Regions from separate parts of the Homo sapiens genome. Here regions 2, 3, 4 and 5 are each linked to region 1. The links come from fine-mapping of genetic effects on gene expression. A gene starts in region 1. Each other region holds a variant in brackets. All regions are shown on one strand. Distances are from middle to middle.

What was found. PIP is the estimated chance that this variant, and not a neighbour inherited with it, causes the effect.
Region 2: its variant is the best candidate, but not a certain one, in a credible set for the expression of FYCO1 in tibial artery (GTEx, PIP 0.88).
Region 3: its variant is the best candidate, but not a certain one, in a credible set for the expression of FYCO1 in sigmoid colon (GTEx, PIP 0.77).
Region 4: its variant is the best candidate, but not a certain one, in a credible set for the expression of FYCO1 in whole blood (INTERVAL, PIP 0.56).
Region 5: its variant is the best candidate, but not a certain one, in a credible set for the expression of FYCO1 in whole blood (INTERVAL, PIP 0.67).

What each region holds. Positions count from the first base shown.
Region 1 is chr3:45,993,193-45,998,976 of GRCh38, reverse strand. FYCO1 (FYVE and coiled-coil domain autophagy adaptor 1) reads left to right here and starts at 3,153. Exons shown (of 18, transcript NM_024513.4): 1 at 3,153-3,255. LOC105377063 (a long non-coding RNA gene) reads right to left here and starts at 3,074. Exons shown (of 3, transcript XR_940799.3): 1 at 2,888-3,074. RefSeq lists enhancers at 3,125-3,284, 3,305-3,354, 2,855-3,354, 5,400-5,784.
Region 2 is chr3:45,911,633-45,917,928 of GRCh38, reverse strand. FYCO1 (FYVE and coiled-coil domain autophagy adaptor 1) reads left to right here. Exons shown (of 18, transcript NM_024513.4): 18 at 1-26. It also overlaps a transcript of LZTFL1 not described here. Among named protein-coding and RNA genes, the nearest start is that of CCR9, 28 kb to the right of the region's middle. RefSeq lists enhancers at 1,752-2,021, 1,461-2,660. The variant G/A (reference allele first, on the strand shown) is at 3,311.
Region 3 is chr3:45,879,323-45,885,618 of GRCh38, reverse strand. It overlaps a transcript of LZTFL1 not described here and the pseudogene SDHDP4. Among named protein-coding and RNA genes, the nearest start is that of CCR9, 4.1 kb to the left of the region's middle. RefSeq lists a promoter at 1-60 and a silencer at 5,174-5,330. The variant A/G (reference allele first, on the strand shown) is at 2,900.
Region 4 is chr3:46,143,343-46,149,638 of GRCh38, reverse strand. It overlaps the pseudogene FLT1P1. Among named protein-coding and RNA genes, the nearest start is that of CCR1, 62 kb to the left of the region's middle. The variant T/C (reference allele first, on the strand shown) is at 3,609.
Region 5 is chr3:45,805,732-45,812,027 of GRCh38, reverse strand. No RefSeq gene overlaps it. Among named protein-coding and RNA genes, the nearest start is that of SLC6A20, 12 kb to the right of the region's middle. The variant C/T (reference allele first, on the strand shown) is at 3,520.

The DNA.
Region 1 (5,784 bases):
TGCCACTATAAGGTTTGGGCTTTAGGCAAATTAGCTAACTTCTCTAAGGCTGTTTGCTTATCTGCTTAATGTGGATAATTATGTATCATGAGACTGATATAAGGATAAAACTAAACCAGGTGTGGAATACACATAACATGGCACCTGGCACATAAAAAGCCCTTAACAATCATTCCAAGAGCCTCATCCCTCCTCAGGGCCGTGGGCACGGTCAGCTTCCCGTGAGGAATAGTCTCCTCTTCTGCCACTTGTTAAGGCTGTAAGGAGAGGGTGTGGGGATTTGGTGATTTTGAATCTGATCTCTTAATGTGTATTCACATCAGAACACAAGAATATGCTGCGTTTGTTTGTATGTTTGTTTGAAAGATTATAGTTTGAAATACTCTGCTGTATCTATAAAGGAAATCCAAGTTAAACTACCTGAACAGTAGTGATTTTGTTAACCTTCCCTGTATCTGACAGTGTGCTGGGTGACAGAAGACCCCTCAGGAGCCCCCAGCTCTACCCCAGCCTCCACCACTCTCCACCACTTATTAGGTGGGTGGACCAGGACAGTCATTTAACCTCTCTGAGCTTCATCTCCTCATCTTCAAAGTATGATAATGAATACTAATTATGTCACCAAGTGGCTGCAAGTTTTAAATATAATGCTGAATGGGTTTTTGTTGTTGTTTTTTGTTTTTTTGCTGGGGGGCTAGGGACTGGCATATAGGTCCTCAATAAATATTAGGTTTGTTTTCCTTTTCTTTTCAAACTCCTTTTGGGTTTAAGTTTCTGTGGTATTATGATGTCTGTCTATCTGTCTGTCTATCTATCTATCTATCTATCTATCTATCTATCTATCTATCTATCTATCTTGGTTTTCTTCCATGGTTCCTGGCTCATAACTCCCATAGCCCTTGTTACAGTCTTTTGTTATGTTAGGTATGTTAGGCTTCAGGAAACCGAATCTCTCTGGCCTTCTGCCCTCCTTTCACCTGCTTTAAGGCAGGACTCTAATCTTCCCCCGCCTTTCTTTCTTTTTTTTTTTCTTTAAGATGGAGTTTTGCTCTTGTTGCCCAGGCTGGAGTGCAATGGCTCGATCTTGGCTCACCGCAACCTCCGCCTCCCGGGTTCAAGCGATTCTCCTGCCTCAGCCTCCCTAGAAGCTGGGATTATAGGCATGTGCCACCACGCCCGGCTAATTTTGTATTTTTAATAGAGATGGGGTTTCTCCATGTTGGTCAGGCTGGTCTCAAACTCCCGACCTCAGGTGATCCGCCCACCTCGGCCTCCCAAGGCGTGAGCTGGGATTACAGGCGTGAGCCACCGTGCCCAGCCGCTTCCCCCGCCTTTCTGATTATAGGTCTTAAGACCCTCCCAAGAGAGGGTCCTCCCCTATACCCTGGGGGAAGCAATGCTGACATCACGAAGCTTCCATAAAAGCCCAAGAGGACTGGATTCGGGGAGCTTCGGGATAGCTGAACACGTGGAGGTTACTGAAGAGTGGTGCATCCAGGGAAGGCATGGAAGCCCCACGCCCCTTCCTCCACACCTCATCCTACGTGTCTCTTTATCTGCATCCATTGCAGTATCCTTTATAATAGACCAGTAAATGTGTTTCTCTGAGTTCTATGAACCACTTTAGCAAATTAGCTGAACCCAAAGAGGGTGTCGTGGGAACTCAACTTGAAGCCAGTCATTCCAAAATTCTGGAGGCCTAGACTTACAACTGGTGTTTAAAGGTGAGGAGGCAGTCTTGGGGACTGAGCCCTCCACTTGTGGGATCTGATACTCCAGGTAGATAGTGTCGGAATTGAATTGGAGGACACCCAGGTGCGGTCCACTGCTCAGTGTGTGGGGAAAACCCCACACACATCTGGTCACCAAATTATTCTCCTGTGTTGATGATTGCTGTTGTGTAAGAGTAGAGGAAAAATACGGTTTGAGGGAGGTTTTTTTTTCCCCACACAGTTTCAAACAAGGATATTGGACCAGATGACCAACATTAAAATCTCTCTCATCCTTAATATTGCATGAAGCTGTTCAGACAGTGGTTGGAGCAATGATTTCTCTTAGACCACTACATTGATTACTTTTCTCTTTGTCATCTTCTCACTCCCCCCGTTTTCTTTCTGTTCTCCTTTCTGTTAACAAGAGTGGAAATCACTTCTATTCATGTACCTCCTCCCAACCCCACCCCCAAACTGACTACTCCATCCATCCAACTCACTGTTTTAGCTACATCTAATTTATAAAATTAGATGGCTAATGAGATGTCATAGCCTAAAATCGACTAAGAAATTGATTTTCTTTCTGTATTATTGTACCCAGACAACACCCTGCTTCCTCAGTTTAGAATGTTGGGCCACCACGGTTCCTGACTGGATACCACGAGCTAGGTCCTACAAGGGAGAGAGCTGTTTCTGGCTTAAATGATGAGAACTAGGGCAGAGAGTAAAGGATAGCCAGCCACAGCTAAGGAATGCAGTCAGTTAGAAGCCAAAGTCCCCGTGTAGTGTTCCTCTTTTCTACTGTGCCCATAGCGGACACTGATTGAATGCATTTTGTTCTATCGTATTCAGTTCCACAGTGCTTTGCAACACCCATCTTATAAATAGAAGTTGGGCTGAGGATGGGGCCAAAGTTAGGGGTGGTAGTTCATAAACACGTAGTTTTTGAGCACTAATTTTAAGTAAGACCCTGATATTAAGAAATAAGGGGGATTAAAAGATGGGAAATTAGGCCCACCAATACATGTTTTTCTATTTCCCAATATATCAAAATATTATCATTTTAACATGCAATCACTAAAAATTAATGAGCTAGTTAACATTCTTCGGACTCTTTGGTACCTAGGTGTATTTCACACTTACAGCACGTGCACGATTCAACTCGAACTAGCTACCTTTGGAGTGCTCCTTAGCCACACAAGAACAGCGTTGTTGTCAAGATGCCAGACCTTTGATTTGTGGCCCTCCGGGGTTGCAGGCGTTAACCTGGGGCCAGCATGGGTCGCGGGTGGGACAGTCGGTCCGGGGACTGGGCGGTGGGAGCACTTAAACCCCGCCCTGCGGAGTCGCCGGGAGTTGTAGTCGGAGCCCCGGGAGTCCGATGGGAGTTGCAGGCCTCAGCCCCGGGGAGCACGCCGGGAGTTGTAGTCCGCCCCCGCCACCCTCTTGGTGTGCGCGTCATGGCCGTCAGCACCGCGTTCCCGTCCTCTTCCGCTTGGCCCCAGAAAGTTTCGGTTCTGCCCGGCGGTGGACCCACGAGCGCGTAAGTGCCGCGGAAGACCGGCTGGACTCTGGGGGCACCTGGGTCGCTCACGATCCCTGAGGCGAGAGCTTCGCTCGGGGCGCGGCTTGTCACCTGTTGCCCTTACAGTCCCCGCCCATCCCAGGTCTCCCTCAGACCCTGCCCGAGCGCCCCCGTCCTTGCCCAGCGGGCCGGGAAGCACCTCGGGCAGGTGGAAGCCGGCCCAGGCACCCAGCCTGCCTCTGTTGGTCGGTTAGAAAGACAGACCCCAAACACCAGTTCCAAGACCCCGGAGGGCGGAGGGCCCGCAAAGGAAAGGAGCCCACCATGCGGCGTCTCAGAACAAGCCTGAATGTCTTAGCGCAGGATGGGGCAGGCCCCGGAGTTCCTGCCTGCGTGGTCTTTAGGAAGTTTAGTCTCTGGCCCAGTTGGGCCGGGACAGCCCAGACCTTCACTTTGCAAGACTCCGCTGGTGCTCGGATCTCTGCCCTCTTCCCAGGAGGGGAAGAAGCTTCTTTCTTCCTGGCCCATCCTTTGGCCAAGACCTATTCACTATCCACTGCCCCTTGTGCCCATGCGCAGGGTCTCGAGCTAGCCCCCAGGGGTCTTTTCCCGAAACACCTGTTGTCTCTGGTGTGGCGGCACTGCACTGGACTGGAGTCCGTGCTGTTGAAACCTGGCGGGGGTGGGGCGGGGAGGGGGGAGGATGGCGGGATTTTATTTTTTGTAAGAAAAGCACATGTGGTTGACACGTTAACCGCGTGGCCCCCTGTTAAAGCACATGTATTCTCTGATGTCCCTGTCACTCTTCACTGTTCCCATTGGGTGTCCTCTCCAGAAAAAAAAATAGAACACTTGTTGAAACTGCCTGTGTTGGCCAGAGCCTCTCAGCCCCTCTGCTTGTCTTACCACAGCAGTTTCCTTTCCCGACAGAGAAATGGGTCAGGGGCTTTTGCGGGGCAGAGGATCCAGGGCTTAATCTGCTCACTGGTTCTCCTGCCCGTGCAGGCCTTGTGGTCTCAGGCTGCAAGCTTAATTCCCCTGCCATCTGCCTAATGCGGCTGGAGGGTGTTGGGGGCTGGTGTGGGGGAGGGGTGGGGAGCTGGAGCTATCATGCCAAGGTTTTCTGCTTTCAGTAGTTCCCACCTTCTGAAGTGGACCCCTGTTGAGTGAGCTCCACTTGACCCTCCCTTCTGTGACAACCACTGTTCTGAAAGCATTGAATGCCCCATACTAGTTGTGCACCGTGGTTATTATCACCCTGAAAATAAGAGCTAATTGTCACAGTGATGGATCTCAGCCTCCTTTGATTAATAGGATCTCTCCTAAAGGCTCTTGCTTTAGGAAATAGAGTTTATCTGTTTATGTTCAAAGTGACTATCTTTGTGTAGCACTTCATTTACTTTTTAAATTGTTTTTAATATTTTATTAGAAAAATAAACATACAGAATCACTGAAAGGATTGTATGGTGAATATCCGTATACTCAATTCTTAATATTTTACTTTGATTTTTTTTTTTTTTTGCAGTTACTTTAGAGATTGGTAACAGTCTCAGGCAGTGATCCTTTAGCTGTTGTTCCGATGACCTTTGCCCCTTGGGGCTGGGTTTGGAGCACCAGTATAATTTCAGGAGCCAAGTTTTTAACCTGGTCCTTTTTGAGGGGGATGGCCCCCATAGATGTTTGTGATGAGAGGAATCACCCATAACAGAGCAAGATCAGAGCAGCTGGTAGCTTTGACCCATATTGGTCACCAAGGCTATGGACTGCTGACTCAAGAATACAAAGTAGGTACGCAAGAAATGGCAGCCCCCTCACCCCCACCCACCCTGCTTCCCTTTAGGGGAGATGTTTAGCTGATAGGTAACTTTTGTTTACTGAAGATTCCAAAGACACAGCTTTGGTGACTCAAGACTAGAATGTCTTTAAACATGAGGCAGAGGAAGTGTGTTGTCTAGCTGTGGTCTTATGGTGGAAATCACTGGTAGGCACCTAGATTTAGGAACCACGTTCACTGCAAGCAGCCCTAGGCAGCAGGTAAGGGTCATTAACTGGTGCCTGTGATTACAGAGGCAACTTGTGAGCACAGATGAGTCCATTATGGTCAGGGCAACATCTGCTCACGTCATGACTGCTATGTTCTTGTCTTAGTCAAAAGATAAACAGTATTTTGTTTGTGAGCTCAATGCCAGTTTCAAGAAAATAAGAAGTCTTTATTGGTATAAGAGCCTCTATCTGAGCAATTAAATAAATCAATAGGGTGGGAATTGGAATGTTTCTGTGGTTCTACCTATGGAAATGCTGTTTACCTTCTTGCTGTTCGTTGATACATCACAAAAATGGCTGAAATGTCTGTACTACCCCCATAATAAGAGCCATTGCCTTGGAGCAAATGGGCCCCATGGCTTTGAGAAGAGGATGATGGCAGAAGCTGTGCTCAGTTAGGCAAGAGCAGTTTTATCCCTTTTCTCACATGGGAGCCAGTCAACCTGTTGATTTTAGTAACTTCCAGTGGTCCTTCCTGTTCACTTGGATCTCTGTGGCATTTGA
Region 2 (6,296 bases), 81 kb after region 1:
AAATAAAGTAAACACTATGACATTTAGACATTTGTCTCTCATTTTTTTGGGACATAAAGTGCACCACGAAGTTATACAGAGCTGAGTTGGGGTTGAGCTGTGCTGCTGGGAAATAGAGCATCTTTTATGGTGGCTTTTCAGGAGGACTTGAGCCAGCAGATGTTCTGGGAAGTTTCCAGGTGGCCTGGCACCTGGCTGCTTCCTGGCCTGCTGTGAGGGTGGTGTTTAGACCTGCCTGAGACAGCCTGTCTTTCAATCCATGCTGTTGTGCCCTATGGGCTTCTAGCCTCAGCTCAAATGTCCAGATCTCCCAGGGCACCCACAGAGCATGTTGAGCAAAGAGCAGACTTCTGAGTTTACCGGAACAATGGGGCTGGGGAGAAGCATCATGGATGGCCTAAAACCATGATTGGTCAATATGAGGTACAAAGCTGGGCAAGACTGCCAGGCTGAGATGGCTGGCAGAGGAAGAAGTCAGCCCTCCCATTCCCGCATACCTTTCTCTGGCTGGGTCAGCAAAGAGCCTGGACAGAGGCCCAGAGGGGCATGCCCTGGTCACTGCTGGATGTTGGACTGAGCTCAGGCTGGGCAGCCCACCCACACTCACCTCACACCCCCACTCCAGGGATGACCAGGGCTCTGTCCCTGCAGTGCTCTGCACCTCAAAAGAACACCTCCCCACACCACCCCTTCACCGCCCTTCCTCCGCCAGCCCTCTCCTGCTGCCAGACTTTCGTTTGGCCTCTTCTTTAATCTGTTACTCCATGGAAGAAGTCACATTTTCTGTAACTCTGGTTCTCTCCCAAGGATAAAAGACAGTGAATCCTTCATCTTTATCTTCATCTCCCTCCTCCCTTCTCTCCCCACCGCAGCATCGAGCAACATGCCAGGCAGGAAGGGACTCAAAAAATACTGAATTGACCTCTCGGGTCAGTCCCAGTGCCCTGGGTCGCCAAAAAGTCATCAGCATTCCCACTGGCGACTAACTCTGCCAGGAATAGAGGCTCCTGAAACACTCCGGTGGCAGAGGAGGGAAAGGGTGGGCCTGCAGGAGGAGATACAGGCAATGATAGCTGGTCACTCAGTCCCACCCCCTGCACCCCCTCTTATGTCAAAGATGCCCTTGGGCTGGGCGCAGTGGCTCACGCCTGTAATCCCAACACTTTGGGAGTCCAAGGCAGGAGGATTGCTTGAGCCCAGGGGTTCAAGACCACCTGGGCAACACAGTGAGACCCCGTCTCTACATTTTTTTTTCTTTAATTAGCCAGGTGTGGTAGTGCATGTCTATAGTCCCAACTCAGTAGAGGCTGCAGTGAGCCAAGATCATGCCACTCCACGAGTGACAGAGTGAGGCCCTGTCTCAAAAAAATAAAAAGGTACCCTCAGATCAAGTATCTATCTAGTAACCAGATTGCAGTAATGGCAGATAGTTACTCCACCTGCCCCAAATGACAGAGCCAGAGAGTTTCTTTGTTAATACAACAGTCCTTCCTGAGGCTTGGGGGCCTCATGGGCTGGGGGCTAGAACAAGAAACAGTTGAGACATACATATATGTGTGTGCTGTGCATCTGGGGCTGGGATCTGGGGACCTCCAGGTCAAAATCCTCCATTCCACCTCACCCCACCCTGCTAAACTGCAGAATAACTCAAGATGACCCAAGTCTTTGCTGGAGGGTTTCCAAGCCCCACGCTTGATTCCAGGTAATCCGGGCCCAGTTCAGTGTTCACAGGCTCTGTGGCACAAAGAGGTGCCCCGCCCCTCCCTGCCACTCTGCCGGGTGAGGGCTGAGGATGCAGAGACTCCTGGGTGACTCAGAAGGCTCCTCACAGCAAGGTCAGCCCTTTCAGTTTGAAGACGCGTGGGAAAAATCTCCTCTTGCCACCCACACACATCTGAAGAGCAAACAGATGGTGAAACCAGTAGCCCAAGATGAGAAAACGGACTTTTTTTGAGACAGCAGTTGAAGCTGAAGCCTCAAAAGCCGGGCGGGGGGAAAGCATAGCAATTATGAAAGACATTCAAAGTGGGTTAGGGGTGAGGGAAAGGTCAGCCTTTTACTTTTCCCACACCCGCTGTTTTCTGAAGAAGGATGGTAATGCGAGCAGAAGGGTGATGGCCAACCTCTGGGCTTTGATGTGTGTCCCCTCCTCCCGCCCCCATCCTGCAAGCTCTGGGGAGGTCGGAGACTAGTGTGGTTTCCTCACACCTCCCACCATGCTGGCACTGAGGTTATCTAAGAGTTGACAGCCCCATCTAAAGCCTTGAATGAATTAAGTCTTTTTTAGCTAAAAAATGAACAAAACCTGAGATGCATGAGTGTCCTTACCAAAAGGAAGTCCTTGTTTCTAGGACAGGTCTGTCTTCGGGCCTGTGGGTCCATAGAATCATCACAGAAAAAATGATTTCAGGAGGTCTCCCCCGCTTTCTGCTCCCAAGGCCGACTCTGACTGAGCCTCGGAGGAGAGAAGGAAGCCATTTCTGGGAGGCCAAAACGTCCGTCTTCCAGGTCAGTGGGGCAGGTGCTGTCTTCTCCCTGGCTTGAGAGAGGAAAGCTGGTGAGGGAGAAGGGTGGGGCGGAGGTGGGCGGTGCGGGGATAAAAGATCGGAGAGCAAAGCAGTGATGAGAAAAGAGGGGTAACAGAAAGGGCCTCCCTAAAGGCTGCAAGGAGGGCTGGACCCAGGGCTGCTTAGCAGAAGCCATCTTTCTCATTGGAAGAAAGGGGCAGTGAGAAATGACGGTGTCGGTGTGGCTGAAGCTGCCCCATGCATCTGGTGGAGGCAGCACTTTAATGTAAGGAAGCCTGGACCATTGAGGGAACAGACACCAAAGGCAGTGACTGCTGATGTGGAAAGACAAGCCGGTTTGTTCCTCTGCCTCAGAGGTGGCTTCAGGGCCCTGCAAGCTTTCACAAACAGGGCCCTGCATGCTTTCACAAGCAGCAGGGGCAGCAGCCTCAGTCCAGTCCTCCCACGACGCTTGTGAATGAGCGACAGGGTTCCTATGTGGAACCCAAGGTCTTGGAAGAGGCAGCTCCTCTGCACCAGCAGGGACGCCACCCAGCTGTTGGGTGGTCTCAGAAAGAGGACCACACATTCATGCCCTGAAGGTGACCAGTGGAAGAAGGACAAGGAGACCAGAACTGGTCCTGGATCAGGCCCCCATCTTCTTTGGTTATGAAAGTTTCAGGTATTGAGCCATCAGGAAAAGCCCAAGACTCACCCAGGGCTCAGTTTTGCTCCAGAGTCAACTGTTCATTTATTAGGTGTCAGTAAATAAAAGGAAGTTGCAGAGAGATTCTTAGGAGAAG[G/A]TTCTCTTGCTTTAGTTACCTGAAGGCATATTAAAATGCAGATCCAGCCAGGTGTGGTGGCTCATGCCTATAATCCCAGCATTTTGGGTGGCCGAGGCAGGAGGATCACTTGAGGCCAGGAGTTCAAGGCCAACCTGCATAACATAGGGAGACCCCGTCTCTACCAAAAAAAATTCAAATATTAGCCAGGCGCCTCTAGTCCCAGCCACTGGGGAGGCTGAGGTGGCAGAATCCCTTAAGCCTGGGAGTTTGAGGCTGCAACTGTGATTGCCCCACTGCACTCCAGCCTGGGGGACAGAGTGAGACCCTGTCTCAAAAAAAAAAAAAAAAATGCAGATCCATGGGCACCACCCATTCCAATTCTGGTTCATCAGGTCTGGTCCATTCACAGGTCCTCCAGGTGATGCTGGAGCAGGTGGTCCTGGTGAACGTTGCTGTGTCACCACTGTTTTGATTAGAATTTGAGGAAAGGAGGAAATGAACTAATTGATCTGTCTCCTAATTTAACTCTACCTGTGATCCTTGAATCTTGGAACCAGGCCGTCTTCCTCAAATCCATTAGCCCAAGCACTAGGGCGCAATGATGGAAATTTCAGTCTTGGAGAGGAGGATGTTTCTAAATGAATCCCCTGGTATAAAACTATTCTAAGGGTAAAATAGTTTACAACCATAACTTTTTTATGGCTTATATTTTTATTCAAGGGTTCTGGTGCCAACTGGCAGATCATTTCTGAGTGGAAAAACATCCCCTTCCCCAAATCCAGAAGAGTTCCATACATGTCCAAATTTTAAGAAATGGAGAAAGTATCCAGGGGGTATGCGTTGGGGAGGTCAGTTTAGGAGGGAGTTCCTAAGCTGGTCGGTACACAGAATCAAAGGTCTTTGAAAATGGGTGGGGGAAAAAATGGCATCTTTACCCTAACTACTAATTAAAATTTAAGTCTTCCTTCAATTATGACTAGAGACAACATGCCACACTAGTACTAGCTAGACCTGTCACTTTGTCACCAGTAGAAATGGCAGATATTTTTGTATTACATGACAATTTCTGCAGACTCTCAAAGTATCATTTATGTTTATCTCCACTCGGAAATGAAGGTTGTCATTAGATCTGATAGATTTTATGTAATGCATTAGTAAAAAGACACATATATTACTAGTTCATATATCTGCTTTAATATTTGGAGAATTGTGTTTCAATTTAATTGGTTTGTAATTCTATTTTATTGTTTGCATTTTAAAGCATTCTGAGAAAGGGGCTATAGGCTTTGTCAGATTGTCAAAGGTGTGGATGAGGCCAAAAAAAAAAAAAAGTTAAGGATCTTTAGGTTGTGGCAGGTCCTCATGAAAAACAAGAGAAAGATCAGCTCATTGCAGCACTGGTTTGTTAATAGTAACAATAGTAGCATTGTTTAATTTGTGTAATTGTATAATTTTCTAGGCTCTTGCTGTAAGTCAGCCCACTTTTACAGATGAGGAACCAAGACCCAGGGAAGATGGTAAGTCTGAACCATTTACAGAACATATTACTGCTACTGCGTTATGCTGAGACAGCTGTAGGAGTGGTTTTCTCTAAACCATTCTCATTTTACTTGAATTTAGATTATCTGATGACTTATAAAAAGCTTTTCCATAAACCAGGATTTGCTATGGCAGCCCTTGACCTTCAGACCTTTATTATGATTGTTAATACAAAAGGCTGTATCAGTTACCTGTTGTCAGACCAAGCTGCATTATTCTGCGTTATTTGAAGTTGGATAACCTCAAAACCGTGGCTTAAATCACTGAAGATTTATTTTGCTCACGAATATGCAGGTTGACTGGGGGCTCTGGACTCTTGGTGGGCTCACTCCCTTGTCTGCCCGTGGTCAGCTACGCATTGAGGCTGTGCTCCCACATGTCTGAGGGTTGGCTGCTCATTGGCTAATCGTGGCTGGGGTTGACTCCTACATCTGTGGTCAGTTGGTCAAAGAAAGGCTGGCTAGGCTAGGATGGTCTTGGCCAGACAACTTGGCTGTACTCCATGTGGTCTCCCTGACCCCAACAGGATAGCCTGGGCTTATTCAGATGGCCACTGAGCAGGTTTCCAAGAGAGTGAGTAAAAGTGCCCGAGCTTCGCAAAGCCCAGTCTCAGACCTGGCACATCATTTCAACAGTGTTCTGTTGGTCAGAGCAAGTCACAGGCCAGCCCAGATTCCAGGTGTGGGAAAAGGGACTCCTCTGGATGGGAGGAACTGCAAAGTCACTTTATAAAGGGCACAGGGACAGTGAGGGGTAGAGAATTGGGACCATTTTTGTAATATTTCTACCAAAGAGTCTATAATCTTCCCTTCTTGCACATATTTCCACCTCAATTTTCATCTTCAGTAAAACACCCACCTTCTCCTCCAGATACACTCATACAAGTACGCAAAAACACACGCAACAATCTTCATGGCCACAATGTCTGTGATAGCAAAAAACAGGAAAGGATTTGTTCAAAGTGGGTTGGATTGAAGCAGTATATGACGGCACCCTGGGAGACTATGTGACGAACACTATTCACACCCATGCGACATTTCCTGACAAAGACGCTGGACACAGCAGTGGCTGCCTTGGCAGATGGAGCTGGTGGGGCTTTGGAGTTGGTGGCAGGAATAAGATGCTTTTACTTTTCTCTTTATACTTTTCTATGTCGTTTGAAGTATTTTTAGTAGGTGCCAGTTTAACTTTTAAAATGCGAAAACTAATTTCTAAAAAGACATTCACATCATCTTACGGCCATCTCAAATTCCCAGTAAAAAACCAAATGCCCAATTCCTATATGCTGGAGTCATTACACAGTTGTTGATGTCTTTCTGCATTCACCAAAGGGGTGACCTACTTACCAGCAAAGCTGAACGGCATAAAGCCATGAGCGGGGAGGGCCTGGGAGGAAGCCACAATATGGCCAGAGTTCCTCTTCCCCTGCCTAGGGGCTGGCCCAGCTAGGGCCCCCTGTCCTCCT
Region 3 (6,296 bases), 110 kb after region 1:
CCATCGTCGCCAACAGTGCTATTGAAAGGCACTGCTTTAGAAAGTCTGCCTGTGAGATGTAGCTAGGAACACATGGAGTGCTGGAAAGCCACAGACACCTTCAAATTGGGGCAAATCTAGTAAGGTTTTGCACATCAGATACATTAACAAAGATAATACAATAAATTGTATTAATTACAGGTGTTTTGGTAAAACTTTGAAAAAAGCTAAATATACAAAATATTGCATTTTTAATGAAGATCACAGACGAAGTCTTCCCATCCACTGCTACAGTGGGGACTTCAATCCTGATGTGATTAATGATTTCCTGTCATTGTTATGACAAAGATCCCTTTTATATATTTGTTCTGGGGGAAAATCATGACTACACTCTTGTGGATGTTAATTTCCACCTCTTGGTGTATTGATTGTCCCGAGGACTCAATGCCGCTCTGTCATGGCGTGGTACTCCCAGGCGCATGTCCCCTTCATCACCCTCAGTTCCCGTAGAGCAAAGGGATGCAGAAGGTGCACTTGGGTTTATTGTCTAAATGGAAAAAGGCCAACAAATAGGTCATCTGAAAGGTAGAGGGCATGCACAGTAAGAACGAAAGAGGTGTCTGATTCATCAGCCTTAAGGAACGGCGGTGCGAGGGAGCCGTGAAATTCCCTTCCCTCGGCGGGCGCTCATTGCAAATAAATGGTGTCTGAAACTATACATAGCTGAGAACCAGCCAGATGCTCTGGCATCTCACTCCTCCCTCTCACTTGGCAAATAAAGACACAAAAGGAACTGGTGCTAGAGGGAAGAAGATGTTCCCTTACTTGACTTTCTTGGCTGAATTTGTTTCTCCCCCGTGTTTGATTGCGTCCTTGGAAAGCTTGCAGCGAGGTGAGACACGCACTATTGCAATTGCCATGGGTGAGGAAAAGCCTGTGCTTCTCCCTTCTCTTGACTCAGGCTGTTTCCTCATCAGGTAAGAGCATACAAGGTAGACACTGCTTGCCCCTAGACGTTGGAGTGAGTCTCGGGGGAGGAAGGAAGGTGAGGCTGGCCGTCAGGGAAGAGGAGAAGGGGTAAATGCACCGGTGTGGGAAGATTCCCTCCTCTGCACGGGTCCCCGTGGTCCAGGTGAGGTGGGGAAGCTTAGGTAGGTTCTTCCATCCAGGTCTGGAAGAGCTGCTCTAGAGCACTCACATGCCCTCTCCTGGGATGCAGAGAGGATCATGAGGCTGGGGAGAAGGGAAGACGCAAGGAAGTCATAGAGAGAACTTCCGCTTTCTCAAAGGAGCTTGTGCAAATGTGACTCCCTTTGCTGCAATCTAGTTTAGGTCCATTCCTGAAAAAAGCCCTATCCTCTTGTTTTCTTTGCTGTGTTTCTTTCTTTGCAACTAGAATTCAGAGCTGGGTGACTATAAAAGGTTGCTGGTCCCCTTTTCTAAGGGCTATTTCTCTCTTGCATTCTCACCCTGCCAAAGGTGAGTTCTGGAGGACAGGGCACTATAAGCATACTCTGAGGGAAGAGATGGAGGTTCTCTAGAGGCTGAGTGCCCTCTGTGGTGCCCAAGGAGGCTGAGCTCTGTTCCTGCGAGCCCCAGTTGTCAGACCTGCTCAGATCTCAGGATTTCTTCAGGACCCAACCTACCCCAGAATGGCGTGGAGTGCAGCACATTCATTTGTCACTGAGCCACCTTTCTGGTTCCAAGGCTGCATCTGTCCACTGGACTAGTGAGAGGATTGTCAGTGTTTTGCTCCTGGGCCTGCTTCTAGCTGCTTAACTGAATCCTTGCTCTGTGATGGCCTACTCCGTGGCTGCAACTCTCACTCTTCATGGTCTTGGGGCCTTGGACAAGTTGTTCCTGACTGTGTTCATGGGGATGCATTGCAGAAAGCTGCCAAGGCAGGCCTTTTGGCACTTTCAGCTTTAGCCTTTTCTGGGCTTTGCTCTTTCAACTATCATGATGTGGGCATCTGCAAAGATACTGCCACATTGTAGAAGCGCTGACCTTTTTGACTTATACTTTGAAGAATTAATGCATGCCTCTTTGCCTTCACTTTGTCACGCCATTCAACTCACAATAAGGAAGAAATAACAGATAAATCCATTGGTGGACAGCCATCTTCTCTTAATCACCAGACTATTTTCAGAATTTAAGCTTTGAGGAAAAGGTTTGAGAAGAATTATGTCCAAGAAATTGTGAGACTGAGGTCTGTATTCTGGTGAGTTAACGGGGTTGCCTCCCAGCTTCTTATAAGACTCACATATAACTCAACATGATATATGAGCTTTTGCCTTTGAATTTATCAATCTCTTAAAGAGAATCCAGCTTTATTACTATTACTACATGATCAAATTTCTTCTGTACTTGCCTTGGGAATAATGGGCAAAGAGAAATACTGTTAATTCATGAATAAAAACTTTGCAGAAAATGAGACCGTGTTTAATTTTCAAAAACTTCCCTCTCTATTCAGTAGACACCAGCTACTGATGGTTACATATTCTAGGGGAAGTTGAAAATTAGGAAATGCTGATATCTCACATTATGAATTTCTAAATCCTAGGAAGAAAAGCTTGGAATGCTTCTGAGTATAGCAAAGTTCTGTTTAAGGGCAAGGTCCCCCTTGTAGAAGTATCAAAATATTACAAATTCTAAACTGAGACTTCATTCTCAAATGTGTTTTACTTGTTCTAAAACGATCTGTCCACAAATATAGAACTATAAGTAATAAACTGTTATTTTCCCACTAGAGGAATCTCTAATACAAAAATGCATTCTATGAAAAGAAATTTTTAAAAAAATGTTAATAATAATAATAATAATAATAATAATAATAATAATAGTATCCCCTTTGGGTTATGGACCAAGTGCTGTACCTGGCAACTGAAGAGCATTTCAGGAATAACTGTGGACTAGAAAC[A/G]GCAATCCACAACGCTGATACCTGTAACAGAGAAAAGACCCAAGCTGACTTTGTTGCAGGGGCCAACAGGAGTGCTGAGTCTGTTCATTACAATATATGATCAAGTCGGTTACCTCTTGTTCATTCCAATATACCAAGTATCTAGCACAGTCTCTGGCACAGAAAAAATTAATTTTACTTCAGTCCTCTACTTTTTAGGTTCCCCAAATTGAAAACTACTATAGATTTGTAATCTTGTTCTCCTCCTTCCTTAGCCTCCTGTACATACTGGGAAAGTCATATTTCAAAAGCATATTGGGGTCTTTGGAAGAGGACAATGCTGTCTTTCTACTTTTCATTGATTAACGCCTTATCTTGACTTGGAAAGCCAAAGTGTCTGGAGGCAGTTAGTAGTTGGTGGTGACATTATGATCAGTGCAGGTAAAAAGAGTCCTAGGTCCAAATTTCCAAGGAATAAAGTCTGCAAGGACCCTTTTTTCCCCACTAATCCATGAGGAAAGGGACTATGTGGATACTGGCCATGGTTGAAGCCCAGCAGCACATTCTAGGAGAATATTAAACATCTTCTGACTAAATTAATGCAAAAAATTCACCTGATATAAGTCTTGAGGATCTAGAATAGAGCCATCTAATAGCACTTTCTGCAATGTGGAAATATTCTATAGCTATCTGTCCAGTGTGTGGCCACATATAGCTAGTGAACATGACACTGTGGTTAGTGTGATCTTTTTAAAATCGTTATTTAATTGGAATTAGCTTAAATGGAAATGTAAACAGCCAACATGGCCAGTGGCCACCCTAGTGGATTGTACAGGTCCAGACCAACCTGCTATTCAGCAGCTAATATTTCTACCTCGGCTCTAGCCTTAGATAGCTCACATTATGATGCAAGCCAGGGCAGCTGGCCTGTGGCAGACTCACTCCCTTCTGCAAGGGGGTGAAGGGTGTGAGGCTGAGCTCTTCCTTCCCCAGTAGCACTCAAGCCAGGGCAGGCTTTAGCTATACTGGTTTTCTAGAATACCTGTAGATACTTTTAAGGGCAAGGTCCCTTAAAAGTATTTTTACACATTCTTCGTGTGTCGCAGTTAGTAATCAAAACCCTTAAAGGACAGGAATGAGGAGAAAGTAGTCATTTTTGCTAAATTCAGTTACCATGAATAGCCCTTGAAGGTCGCGGTGTCAGCTAGGAGGCAATTCTCAGAGAGTGAGAGAGAGAGAGGAGGAGGGGGCCCGCACCCTGCAGCAGCAGCAGGAATGGGAGGGACAGGACAGACATGGCCAAGTGCCCCTCAGGAGCTGCCAAATGATGAGATGTTGCAGGAGGAAGAGAACAAAACCAGTTGGAGGCTGTGGGAAGACTTGGGTATCTTTAACTGAGCAAGTGTGTGGGAGGAAATGTTGGTTTTGGCAGATAGTGATGCATGTAGCACTGGATGTGATATGGCTGAGGTGTTGAAGTGAAGGTGTCTAGCAGGTCGTTAGATATTCCCCACTGCAGCTCAGAGGGGAGGTCAAGAGTTCAGTGGTGTGGCTGCCAAGCTGCTGCAGAATACAAGCTGTTTATAAGGGAAATATGTGTCATCCTCAACTCCTGAGGTTTTGTGCTTGCAGCACCTGAGTCATGAGACCAGTCAGAGGATTTTTTATTTTTATTTGTCTCATCTATTAATGATAAAAATCATCCCTTCTGCCCTCACACGCATTATCTCATTGGAAGATCTCATTGGAATCCTTCATTCAACATGTACTTGTCAAGCTCCTACTATTTGCTGTCACTGTTCTAAGAGGTTGGATGTAGCAGTCAGCAAGACAGAGCACATTAAATAGCGACAAATGCCATGCAGAGAATCAGTACAGACAGAGGTGATGGAGGGAGTGGCGTGGGAAGGGGGCCCTCACACTGGATGGTCTGGGAAAGGCCCACTACAGTAGTGACACTTAAGGCCTGAGTGACAAGAAGTTCCCATCAATGTGAAGATTGGAGCAGCCATTATCAGCAGAGGGAACAGTTGGCAGGAAGAATTTGACGTGTCCAAGGATGAGAAAGACCAACAGGCAGGAGGACAGCTTGCAGTGAGGGGCGGCCAGATAATTTGGAGGGGCACGAGCATGTTGGGCTTTGAGGCTGGGCCAGTAGTTTTCACCTGATGCCAGGTGTACAGAAAGCTACCCAAAGGACTTATATAGGTGATAACACGATCCGATTTCCTTTTTTTTTGAGATGGAGTCTTGCTCTGTCGCCCAGGCTGGAGTGCAGTGGCGTGATCTCGGCTCACTGCAACCTCCACCTCCTGGGTTCAAGTGATTCTCCTGTCTCAGCTTCCTGAGTAGCTGGGATTACAGGTGCCCATCACCACGCCCAGCTAATTTTTGTATTTTTAGTAGAGATGGGGTTTTAGCATGTGGGCCAGGCTGGTTTCAAACTCCTGACCTCGTGATCCGCCTACCTCGGCCTCCCAAAGTGCTGGGATTGCAGGCCTGAGCTACCTCGCCTAGCCTGATTTCCATTTTTAACAGATCACTGATTGCTGCATGGGAAACAACAAAAAAACAGCAAAACCTTTGGTTCTGCAGGCACCAGAACCAAACGTCTAAATGAGAGCCTTGCCTTGGCTGGGCTGGCCTAGGCCACCGCAGGATCCACCCTCAGCTCTGCCTGTCACTGTCCCTTCTCTGGACCTCTGCCTGTACGGAGGCATCATGGTAGATTCAGGGTGCTTACATCCCTCCCTCCTGCCACCCCTGATGGAAGGAGGACACACACACTAAACGTCACCCAGGGAACATTTCTAGTGATGACCATCATTATTCACTGAGAAGTGCTTATGGGTTTTTTTAAATACATATTTTTATCATTAATTCCAGTTAATAATGTTGGGTTTTTTAAATAGGCTTTGTTTTTTAGAGCAGTTTTAGGTTCACAGCAAAATTGTGCAGAAGGTACAGAGAGTTCCTATATACCCGCTCCCGCAGCACATGTGCCACCTTCCCACTATCAACATCCTGCATCAGAGTGGCACATTTGTTATAATCAGTTCATCTACACTCATACATCACTATCACCCAAAGTAGTTTACTTTAGGTTTCACTCTTTGTATTGAACACTCTGTGGGTTTGGACAAATGTATGACATGTATCCACCATTAAAATAACATACAGAATAGTTTCATTGCCCTAAGGATCCTCTGTACTCCACCTATTCGTCCCTCTCTTCCACCTTACTCCTGGCAACCACTGACCTTTTTACTGTCTCCAGTTTTTCTTTTCCGGAATGCCGTATTTGTTGGAATCATACAGTATATAGCCTTTTCAGATGGGCTTCTCTCACTTACTGATATGGATTTAAGGCTCCTCCATGTCTTTTCATGGCTTGCTAGCTCATTTCTTTTTAGTGTTG
Region 4 (6,296 bases), 150 kb before region 1:
TCCCTCTACACACTCCTTTGAATGTGTCCCAGAGATTCTGGTATGTTGTGTCTTTGTTCTCATTGGTTTCAAAGAACATCTTTATTTCTGCCTTCATTTCGTTATGTACCCAGTAGTCATTCAGGAGCAGGTTGTTCAGTTTCCATGTAGTTGAGTGGTTTTGAGTGAGTTTCTTAATCCTGAGTTCTAGTTTGATTGCACTGTGGTCTGAGAGACAGTTTGTTATAATTTCTGTTCTTTTACATTTGCTGAGGAGAGCTTTACTTCCAACTATGTGGTCAATTTTGGAATAGGTGTGGTGTGGTGCTGAAAAAAATGTATATTCTGTTGATTTGGAGTGGAGAGTTCTGTAGATGTCTATTAGGGCCACTTGGTGCAGAGCTGAGTTCAATTCCTGGGTATCCTTGTTGACTTTCTGTCTCGTTGATCTGTCTAATGTTGACAGTGGGGTGTTAAAGTCTCCCATTATTATTGTGTGGGAGTCTAAGTCTCTTTGTAGGTCACTCAGGACTTGCTTTATGAATCTGGGTGCTCCTGTATTGGGTGCATATATATTTAGGATAGTTAGCTCTTCTTGTTGAATTGATCCCTTTACCATTATGTAATGGCCTTCTTTGTCTCCTTTGATCTTTGTTGGTTTAAAGTCTGTTTTATCAGAGACTAGGATTGCAACCCCTTCCATTTGCTTGGTAGATCTTCCTCCATCCTTTTATTTTGAGCCTATGTGTGTCTCTGCACGTGAGATGGGTTTCCTGAATACAGCACACTGATGGGTCTTGACTCTTTATCCAATTTGCCAGTCTCTGTCTTTTAATTGGAGCATTTAGCCAATTTACATTTAAAGTTAATATTGTTATGTGTGAATTTTATCCTGTCATTATGATATTAGTTGGTTATTTTGCTCGTTAGTTGATGCAGTTTCTTCCTAGCCTCGATGGTCTTTACAATTTGGCATGATTTTGCAGTGGCTGGTACCGGTTGTTCCTTTCCATGTTTAGTGCTTCTTTTAGGAGCTCTTTTAGGGCAGGCCTGGTGGTGACAAAATCTCTCAGCATTTGCTTGTCTGTAAAGTATTTTATTTCTCCTTCACTTATGAAGCTTAGTTTGGCTGGATATGAAATTCTGGGTTGAAAATTCTTTTTTTTAAGAATGTTGAATATTGGCCCCCACTCTCTTCTGGCTTGTAGAGTTTCTGCTGAGAGATCCGCTGCTAGTCTGATGGGCTTCCCTTTGTGGGTAACCCGACCTTTCTCTCTGGCTGCCCTTAACATTTTTTACTTCATTTCAACTTACCTAGCACTCCTTTCTCTATGTCCAGGATGCCACATTACATTTAGTAGTTGTGTCTCCTTCAGCTCTTCTTGGCTGTGACAGTTTCTCAGACTTTCCTTCTATTGGTGAACTTGACAGTTTTGGTAGTGCTGGTCAGGTATTTTGTAGCATGTCCTTCAAGTGGGATTTGTCTAATGTTTTTCTCATAATTAGACTGGAGGCATGGGTTTTGGGGACGAAGACCACAAAGCAGAGTCCCTATCTCATCACATGATATCAAGGGCACAGACAATCAACATCCCTCATGCCTGTTCATGTTAACTGGTCATCTGGCTGAGGTAGTATTTTTCAAGATTCTTCACCGTAAAATACTCTGTTTTTCCTGAAGCAGATTTTTGAAGGACGATTGATAAAAAAAAATTGTTTATATTTAAGGCATACAACATGATGTTTTGATACACATAAGCATTGTGAATGATTACCACAATCAAGCTAATCAACATATGCATCATCTCACATACTTATCACTGTGGTGGGAACACTTAAGATCGACACTGTTAGTGAATTTCAAGTATACAATACAGCAAGGGTCCCCAGCCCCTGGACCATGGACCAGTACTTGTCCATGCCCTGTTAGGAACTGGGCCGCACAGCAAGAGGTGAGCAGCAGGGAAAGCCAGCATTACCACCTGAACTCTGCCTCCTGTCAGATCAGCGGCAGCATTAGATTCTCATAGGAGCTTTAACCCTATCGTGAACTGTGCATATGAGGGATCTAGGTTGCACACTCCTTATGAGAATCTAATGCCTGATATCTGAGGTGAAACAGTTTCATCCCAAAACCGTTCCCGCCACACTGGGTCTGTGGAAAACTTGTCTTCCATGAAACTGGTCCCTGGTGCCAGAAAGGTTGGGAACTGCTACAATACAGTATTACTAATGATCATCACCATACTGTATGTTAGGTCCCCAGAACTTACTCTTAACTGAAAGTTTGTACCATTTGGCCAACATGTCCTCAAGGGGGTTGATTTTCATTGGTTTTGTTGTTACACCATGATCCAGGAAGGTGTCAAGGACGCCAGCAGGCAGCTGTCCCCGTCACCGCAGACATTGCTGAATGACTAAACCGACACGCATGCATATCCAACCCTCCTTCCCTCACTCATGCCAGTGGACAAATCAGGGCTTTTCGTACCCTCACTGGGCCCTGCAAATTTCTACCCCCAGGAGTGGAGGTTTGGCTTGGAGTGGCAGCTCTGAGAGCTGTTGTGTCTGGGGACTACTGCTCTGCTGGTTGTGTCGGGGAACAAAGCCCAGGCCTGATGAATGGACACCTGCAACCTCCCTGGAAGTGCCAGAAATCTTGTGAAATAAGACTTGGTAGAAGATTTAGTAGCTTTTTGACAAGTAGGCAGGAGCTCAAAGTCATCAAATTATGGACATGAATGTCAACAGGAGCACACTTGTTCATGCCCATTGGTAAAGCCCAAAATGCTAAGGGTACATGCGTATGATTTTTAAAAACTGCATCCTCTTGTCATATTATGGCTTTTGCAGAGGGCAACAACTCTCTCTTACTTCCTCCGGAACTCCCCAATACAGAACTCACTCTGCAAAAGGTGAACACCTTCTAGATGGTCTGATATGTGCTTGGTCAAATATGACTAAAGTTATTTTGCGGCTGATTAATAAGGAACTCGTGGGGTTTTTTAAACATGTAAATGACTGAATGATGGAAGAATTACTGAAGATCTTTTAGTGGAAAACCTCATTTCCTGTATTTGGAATTTGATTTTTGTTTCCATCTGAGCTTATGAGTATGTAGATTTTAGAGGCCAGCCCTGGCTTCTCTCAATTGAAAGAAATGTAGGTTAATATTCTTTAAGGAATTTCTTTTCTGGACTTTTTGAGGAGTTTCAGTACAATAAAAAACACAAAGTGAATGTGTACAAAATAAGAAACTATTAAACTCTAGTCCACTGATGGTATCTGACTAGCAGCAGTGATGTGAGTTGTTTTAATGTTAATACCATCATATTTGGATGCCCTGTACTCCTTATATAGCCGTAGGCACCACTTCTTTTTGTTGTCTGTAACTACACATGTACCCCTGCTGGCCCCCAAAGATACTGTAGTGTACAACTGTGGCGCTAGAGACTCCTGCCACCCTCAAGATGAAAGGCAACCACAAGTGCTTCCAAGAATGAGCACCTTCTGCTTAAAGGAAAGAGGCCTCTTATAAAGATACCATGGGAGGCTGAATACTTGCCCCCAAGGATACCCAGGCTCTAATCCTGGAACCTGTGAACTTATATAGCAAAAAAGGCCTTGCA[T/C]GTGTGATTAAGTCAAGGATCTTGAGATGGGGAGATTATCCTGCTAAGCCTTAAACATAATCACAAGAATATAAGAAGAAGGTAGAGAGAGATCTGAATACTAACGAAGAAAAGGCAGTGTGACAACAAAAGTAGAGATGGGAGTGATGCAGCCACAAGCAAAGGAATGCCATTAGCCAAGAAAAGTTGAAAGAGACAAAGAATAGATTTTCCTCTGGAGTATCCAGAAGGAGCCAGCCCTCCCAACACCTTGATTTTAGTCCCATAAGGTTCATTTCAAACTTCTGGCCTCCACAACTGTAAGAGAATACATTTGCACTAATTTAAGCCACTAAATTTTTGTTAATTTGTTACAGCAGCAATGGGAAAATAATACAGACACCATGGTCACAATTTCCATCCTTCCTAGAGCTAGCCATCCAATCTATTAGGAGTCAGTACTTTACTCCTCTTTTTCCATCCAGATGCTTGATACCATGATGTCCTCACAGCATCTGATTTTTTTAACATTTAAAATTTTATTTCAGAATTGTTTGGCAACTGTTGAGCGAGATGTTACAAGACTAGAGTCAAAATGCTCTCAATTTTTTGGTTCCACATTTGACCCCTTTGGAGACTAAAAGACTCTGCAGAATGTCAATTCCAGTGCAGGAATACCCTCTGCAATAGGTCAACAGAAGGTCATCCAGCTCCTTTCACATTCCCCTTCAGTAACTAGGACCTCACTTTCTTCCATTTGTTCACAAGGACAGGGTGTCCTTATTCTGAGTCAGCCAACTTCTGAGTAGCCCAAGACCTAAGAACTGAACAGCAGATACTGAAGACAGAAAAGCATCTGGAAAAAGACCAGAATCAGAATTGAGACCTTATTGCTAACCCTCCACATCTAAAAGAGTTGACCGTTACTTAGTGTAATGGGGCTGCTGAATTATATGTGTGGTGATCATTGTATATATTCCAAAACCAGTTGTTCATTCAACCCGAAGATAAACTATCCATAGTGAGTCTTTGATTCTTCCCAAGTGCTGGGTAGATGGTAGGAGAGTAGACTACATTTGTTTTCTAAGCCTGGTAATAATCAGCTCTTCACAATCATTTTTCTAGCAAGTGTCTCAAGATGGGCTCTTATTAGCCTAGTTGTAAGTAGGCCTTTTTTACTTATGACCTAGTCACAAAATAGTTGTTTCCCCTGAACTGATATCCATCAACAGCGCTTACCATCTCATTTTTGTATTTGGCTATTTTTTAAAGTATCAGAGCATTCCCAGATTTACTTTCTTTCTCCTTAAATTTCATCTTGTTATTTTCAGTTCAGTGACCCAGTCTGTCAAGATCCATTTGAACCTTCACCATTGCCATTCACCTTCGCATTAGCAATCCTAACCAGTGTTTTCTTCCTTAAAATTGACTAAGCAGTAAATGCTACATAGAACATTGTTCTGTAATCAATTATAAAATAATCTCTGTAAGAGAACTAAAAATTTAATTGGCATTGTTGAGCTGTGCCCGCTTCCCTTCTTTTGTGGAAGCCAAAGATCAATACCATAGAGATCAAAGTAGTGCAACGTTCCCTGGCCTGGGCAGCACTGCAGGCAGTAGTGGGCACAGAGGTGGGTCATGGGTCATGGAGCCTGGGGTGTGATCATGGATGTGTACATGGGTGTGCAAAAGGGAAAAAGGAAGAGGACTTCTGTGGGGCTCATTGAGAAAGAACAAAAGGAGACCTAGGAGGGCAGAACTGAGTGGAGACCAGGGACAGCTGATGCCAAGACCTTTTGAGATGTCCTGTAACCACTTCCACAGAGTTAATTTTGTGATCTACTTTCTGTTTCTCTGCATTTCAATACACAGCATTCTTTGGAAAGGAGTCTGTGTCCTTTCAGATCCTGCAGAGTGAAGGAAAAGAGGAAGAATCTCTGCCAAGAGGAAGCAGGGACAGTGAAAGCTCAATGTGGACCAAATCCAAAGCAGTGGAGGGAGGTAGGGCTGCCCGGAGCCCCCTTTGGCACAGCGCCCCTGCCCCACAGGGAAGGCTGCAGGATGGAGTAGGAAGCAAAGGCCTCTGCGCTTTTGATTGCATGCTGCCATCAACAACAGTTCTGGACATGTGCCTCTGACATATGAATATGCATTTGTTTATTTTTACAGATGTGTTCTACTGTAGTAGTGTCTTATGTGTAGAATAAAACACAAAAAAGAAGATAAGGGGTTGTGTGCCCAGCCCGGGCATGCAGTGGAAATGCAGGGCAGGGGAGAGGAGGCCTTCAGGGCACCACATGGGCCCCACGGTGCAGCTGGACTTCCTTCTCAACCCTCTTGCTTCCTTCAGACTGGGGTCAGATCAGCAAACAAAGGGCCTCTGATGGTGATTGTTGAATATTGCAAATATGGAAATCTATCCAACTACCTCAAGAGCAAATATGACTTATTTTTTCTCGACAAGGATGTGGCATCACACATGGAGCGTAAGAAAGAAAAAATGGAGCCAGGCCTGGAACAAGGCAAGAAACCAAAACTAGATAGCATCACCAGCAGCGAGAGCTTTGGGAGCTCCAAGTTTCAGGAAGATAAAAATCTGAGTGATGTTGAGGAAGAGGAGGATTCTGATGGTTTCTACCAGGAGCCCATCACTATGGAAGATCTGATTTCTTACAGTTTTCAAGTGGCCAGAGGCATGAAGTTTCTGTC
Region 5 (6,296 bases), 190 kb after region 1:
AAAAAAAAGAAGTGATAAGGGTGGTTGAAGCTGGATTTCTTTTTCAATTTAAGTAAAACTTATGTACGCAAAGTGCACACATCATAAGCATACAGCTCAAAGAATTTGCACAAAGCACTAAGGTACCCAGATGAAGAATCACTCATTATCTGCACCCCTAGAGGCCTCCTGTGCTGGCCCCCAGGCACCATCTCCTTCCAAAGGTAACCACTCTCCTGACTTCCTTTTTGAACTTTATGTACGTGAAATCATACAGCATAGACTCTGTTGTGTCCAGCTTCTTTCAACACTGTGCTTGTGAGTGTCATCCCTATTGTTGCATGTAGCAATTTTTTTTTGTTCTCATTGCTGTATAGTGGCAATATTCCATAATTTATCCATCATACTGTTGCTGGACATTTGGAGTTTTGCTAGTCTGTGGCTAATACAGAGAATGCTAATATAAACGTCTAGTGTGGATCTTTTGGTGTAGGTATGTACATCTAGGAGTGTCATTGCTGGATCACAGCATATATGAATGTTCAATATTAGTAGACACTGCCCCCCAAATTTTCCAGGTGTCCAATTTACACTCCCATCAGCAGTGTCAGAGAGTTAGGTTCTGGATATATTTTGAAGGGAAAACTAATAGACTATCAGCACAGATTGAAAGGAGATGAGAGATAGGACTCAGGATGACTTCAAGGGTTTGGGGCTGAGCAACTGCTAGGCTAGGCTTGGTGTCAACAGAGATAGGGAGCTGGCTTTAGGAAGGGAAGTGGGCAAAGATAAGAAATTCTCTTTCTTTTTTTTTTTTTTTTTTTTTTTTGAGACAGAGTCTTGCTCTGTCGCCCAGGCTGGAGCGCAGTGGCACGATTTTGGCTCACTGCAACCTTCTTCTCCTGGGTTCAAGTGATTATCCTGCCTCAACCTCCCTAGTAGCTGGGATTACAGGTGCCTTCCACCATGCCCAGCTAATTTTTACAGGTGCCCGCCACCATGCCCAGCTAATTTTTGTATTTTTAGTAGCGACGGGGTTTTGCCATGTTGGCCAGGCTGGTCTCAAACTCCTGACCTCAGGTGATCCACCTGCCTCGGCCTCCCAAAGTGCTGGGATTACAGGCATGAGCCACTACGTCTGGCCAGAAATCCTCTTTTAGACAACCATGAAATGCCTCTCAGACACCCAAATGGGGATGTTGGGAGGCACCAGACATACAAGTCTAGACCTCTGAAGTGTGGTCTGGACTAGAGATACAACATTGGGAGTTATCGGTGGAGAGGGCTTTTAAACCATTAAAGAGGTAGGCACACCAAGGAGGTGAGTGTCAGTGAGAAGCCCTAGGTGCTCCAACCCCAAGGAATCAGGGAAGAGGAGACATCAGCAAAAGAGATGGAACAGCAGGGGCCAGTGAGAGGAAGACCAAGAGAGCGTCTCCCTGGATGCTGGCTGGGCAAATCACATCAGCAGGAAAGAATCATTACCTGGGTGGCATGCAGCTGGCAGGTCCAGGAAAGGGACAGCTGACTGTTGGATTTAGCTATGTGGGGGGTCACTGGTGTCCTTGACAAGATAGTTTTGTTGGACTGCTGAGGGGCCTAGCTGAGGTGACTGTGAGAAGTAACAAGAGAAACTTGGAGACAAAGTAAGCATCGACATCTCTTGATTGGCTGGGCTATAAAACAGTAAAGCGAAAAAAAAAAGGGGGGGCATAAGGTAGGTAGAAAGGAAAGTAGAATCAAGAGAAGGGATGTTTTTCTTAAAATATGGTGGTCAAGACAGGCCTTACTGAAGTAGAAGCATGGTGTTTGTCTATTTTCTGCCTCGCCACCAGAATGTATCCTCCGAGGGGGCTGAGATCTGTGGTTGTCTTGTTTATTGCTGCATCCCCCATATCCAGAACAGGGTCTGGCACATAGACTCGATACCTCTCTTAAATAAATGAGCAAATCGGGCTTGATAAACAAGAAACACATATAACATGCCAAATAGTGCCCAAGGGATACAATGAAGAAGGAAAGAGAGAAACAATGTTGGGGTGGTAGTTGACATTTTACATAGGGCTGTCACTAAGGCTTCAATGACAGGGAGACTTTGGAGCAATGACAGATACATATAGTGGTGGAGGCCTAAACCAAAGCATGAGGCCAGAAAAAAAACTCATTCACAGATGATATAATTGTGTATGCAGAAAACACACAACAATCTGAATTATCCAAATAGAGAATTTAACACTGCTAGAGATAGAGTCATTCCATATGATTAAAATTTTAACCCTCCAAGAAGATATAACAATTTAAAGTTTGTCCTTAATGGCTTCAGATTCTATAAAGTAAAAATTGACACAATTAAAAGAAAATAGAAAAATTCACAATCATAATGGAAGATTTTAACACTTCTCTCAGTGATTGATGGAATGCACAGACACAAAATCATCATAAGGATATAGAAGATAGGAACAATACAATAGCAGATTTGGCCTAATAAATAAAACAAACTGCAGCATCCAATTTTTTTTCTCTTTGTGCAAATACAGAATATTTATGAAAACTGGCCACACACTATACCAAGTCTCAACCACCTGGGTGATGGCTACAAGAGCACTTGTCTTATAATTATTATTTATACATGTATTTATTTTCCATAGTATGCTGTATGCCATATATGCTGTATTATAACACAAAAAGTACGGCATAGGCCAGGCGCGGTGGCTCACACCTGTAATCCAAGCACTTTGGGAGACTGAGGCAGATGGAACACCTGGGGTCAGGAGTTCGAGACCAGCCTTGCCAACATGGTGAAGCCCTGTCTCTACTAAAAAATACAAAAAATTAGCCAGTCGTGGTGGCATGTGCTTGTAATCCCAGCTCCTCAGGAGACTGAGGCAGGAAAATTGCTTGAACCCAGGAGGTGGAGGTTGCAGTGAGCTGAGATCACACCAGTGCACTCCAGCCTGGGTGACAGAGTGAGACTCCATCTGCCCCGTCCCCACCCCCCAAAAAAAAAGTACAGCATAAATGAAACAAAACATGGCAGACAATGATAACACGTCATTCTGGGTAGGCTGTATATTGGGAAATGGAAACAAAGTCAGAAGGGAAGTTTTGGGAGCACTTAATTCCCTATAATACAGTAGGGAATCGATTTCACAAAACCATTCCCAGGCAGTTGAGCTATTTTCAGACAATATAGCACCTTGGCAAGCAGGGAAAAGATTTTGGGCTCCTCAAGTTCATGAGAAGAAATTGTTGTTGCATCTGTGATAAATTATCTTTAAGACCTTTTCCTGTTGACTCTGAATGTATTTTAGAAGAGAAATTTTAACAGTGGGAAAGAGCAGGCAGAGGTGGACCTTAAACAAGGGACATTGGGGATATGGAAACTGGAGGGGAGCCAGTGGGGAGAAGATCTAGAAATGTTAATAATGAGTGGCACGGCAGTGTTGGTAGGGATCTTCCTCTTCTGGAGAAGGGTATCCCACATCAGCCACCATGGAAGCTTCTAGAAGCCAAACATTCAAGAGACTCCTCTGCCAAGCT[C/T]AGTTTTTCAGGGAGTCTCGTGCATCTGTATTTTAAAGCTCCATAGATAGGATCCTGATGTGCAGCCAGGGTTAAAAACCCTGTGTGCTCCTGAGACATTAACCTGCCTGCAAATCCCTTGGGGGGGTCTTTTTAAAAATAGGTTCTGATTCTAGAGGTCTGGGAGGGGCCTGAGAGTCTGCATTTCCCACAGGCGCCCTGGCGATGCCGACGCTGCCCATCGCTAGGCCACATTTGGAGTATGGAGCAGGGAAAGAAATCAAATATAATTTGAACCACCGAGCTTGTGAAATAAAGCATGTGTGTTTTCTGGCAGAGTAAGATTCACAGGGCTTCTCCTGTTATGAAATGAAAAGAGCAAGTACAAAACAGTACAGCAGGACACAGTGAAATTCCTTAGGGGGTCACTAATTGAGACAGCATGGCCCCAGGTGTACCCTGACCCTTGAAAATATTTTCACAGTGCTCCATCTGTTTTTCTCCACCAGATTATGCCTTCTAGTTGGTATTGATTGCTTGTTCCCAGCAAAAATATTTGAGGTGAAGGAATAAATTCAGCCAAGACCAACAAAAAGGAAGGAAGGATTCCACACTGCTCTCTGAGTCCCTTGTTTTCACAGCACGTGGCTGAATCTTCCTTAATGCAAGGGATCAGCTGAGTGATCGTGGTGAGAAGCCACAATGTTTTCTAAACAAGCTCATTTCTGCATCTGTTCTCTCTGACCTGAAAAATGCCTCTTTGTTCCATTCCTCTTGTTCCTTTAGAAAGGACGCCCACTTTGTGTTGTTTACTCAAATTAGTTACTTCAGACAACAATAGGCATCAATTCACAGAAAATCCACTCAGGTTACTCAGTTGACACAGTTGTCCTTTGGATGTAGGCATACAGGCAAAAGGATATAGAATATTAAAATCATTGTGTAACCTTACTCAGAGGCTCAGGAAGCCCTGAGTTTTTACCAGTATATACTGGTGAAGTACAAGTTCAAACATTTATTTTAGTATTTCCCTATATTATTTTAAGTTAGGCTTTCTTTGCTTTCAAGTCTTAGATGTCTTTTCATTTTCCTTTATTTTTAAGGCTGCCATTCAAGTCATCTGTGTCCCATTAGTTGTTATCATATCTCACAGAAGTGTAGCCAGAAACAGAGCCACAGCAACACAGAGCTGTAGCCTGCAGCTGCCAACCCAGTGCCAGTTCTGTGCAGCCATGTTGCCTTCAGCTCTGGCCAGCAGTTCCTCCGATCCTGGAGGCTCTCTGCGTCTTGTTATATTTGCCAAATATTCTAAATTGCTTGGAATAGCTCAGTGAAGAAGGTCAGCACTACGCCCCATTTGGTGAATGTAAACTCAGGAAGGTTGTACACTTTTTATTTTATTATTTATTTGTTTGTTTATTTGATGGGGTCTTACTGTGTCACCCAGGCTGGAGTGCAGTGGCGCATTCATAGCTCATTACAGCCTCCAACTCCTGGGCTCAAGTGATCCTCCCACCTCAACCTCCCAAGTAGCTAGGACTACAGGTGTGTACCACCACGCCTAGCTAATTTTTTAAAAATTAATTTTCTGCAAAGACAGGGTCTCACTGTGTTGCCCAGGCTGGTCTCAAATTCCTGGCCTCAAGCGATCTTCCCACCTCGGCCTCCCAAAGTGCTGGATTATAGGCGTGAGTCACTGCACCTAGCCTATACACTTTTTAAATTCAAAATTCCATCAATAATAAATACAGTTAATTGCCTAAGTGCCTATATGATGTTATAATGTGTGTGTGTGTGTGTGTATGTGCGTGCATGCATGTGCCATATAAAGACTAAATTAACACATTCTCTGCAAGTTACAGGGGGAAAAGGCCATATTAAATGACCCCACAATGAAATAATCAGTCAAATCCTGAATGTAAGACATTATACAATTCAAACAGTTAGCCTGGTCTCTTTAGAAAGTCAATGTCATGAAAATAAAAAGGTGGGAAAACTGTCCTAAAAGCAACTGTATTCATAACAACCAAATGCAGTGTATGAATTCTTTCTATCCTGGAAAGCTATAAAAGAAATCTGGGGACAACTTGAAATGTTTGCTTTGCATACTTTCACAAAGTCTAAAGTTGTTCACCTCCTTAGAACATTTCCGCTCTTACCACTCATCTGTCATATGCTATTTTACCTGTCCAAGATTTAAGTTCTACCTTTTAATTTTTTTCAAAATGCCACAAATTAAACACTCCTCTGCGGTGAGACCTTTGATGTGGGTTAAGGGCCTCACCCTGATGTTCTGGAGCATGATCATGAGGCATCTTGATGGGCATTACATTTTTTTATCCTACGTAGGATTCACTGGGCTTCATGAATCTGTGGTGGGAAATGTTGAGCTGTTGTACTTTAAGTGTTTCTCTGTTCCAGTCTCTCTTCTCCTTCCAGAATTCTAGGTAAGCATATATTAGACTTCATTGTCCTACATAGCTTATTTATATATCTTAAATTTTTTCTTGGTTTTTGTTTCTTATCTCTCTGTGCAATGTGCCACATAATTTTTTCTGACATATCTTTGCGTTCATCAAATCTCTCCTTAGCTGTGTCTCATCCACTTTTAAATCCATCCACTTAATTTTTAATTTCTATTATTGCTATTTGTAGAAGTTCCATTTTAGATTATTCTAATAATCTGTATTAATCAATTTTCACTCCCTGTTCTTTTTATTTTCTGCTTTATCTATCAAAAATGGAGAAATGAGTACAGATATCTCCATCATGATGGTAGATATGTCAATTTATCCATG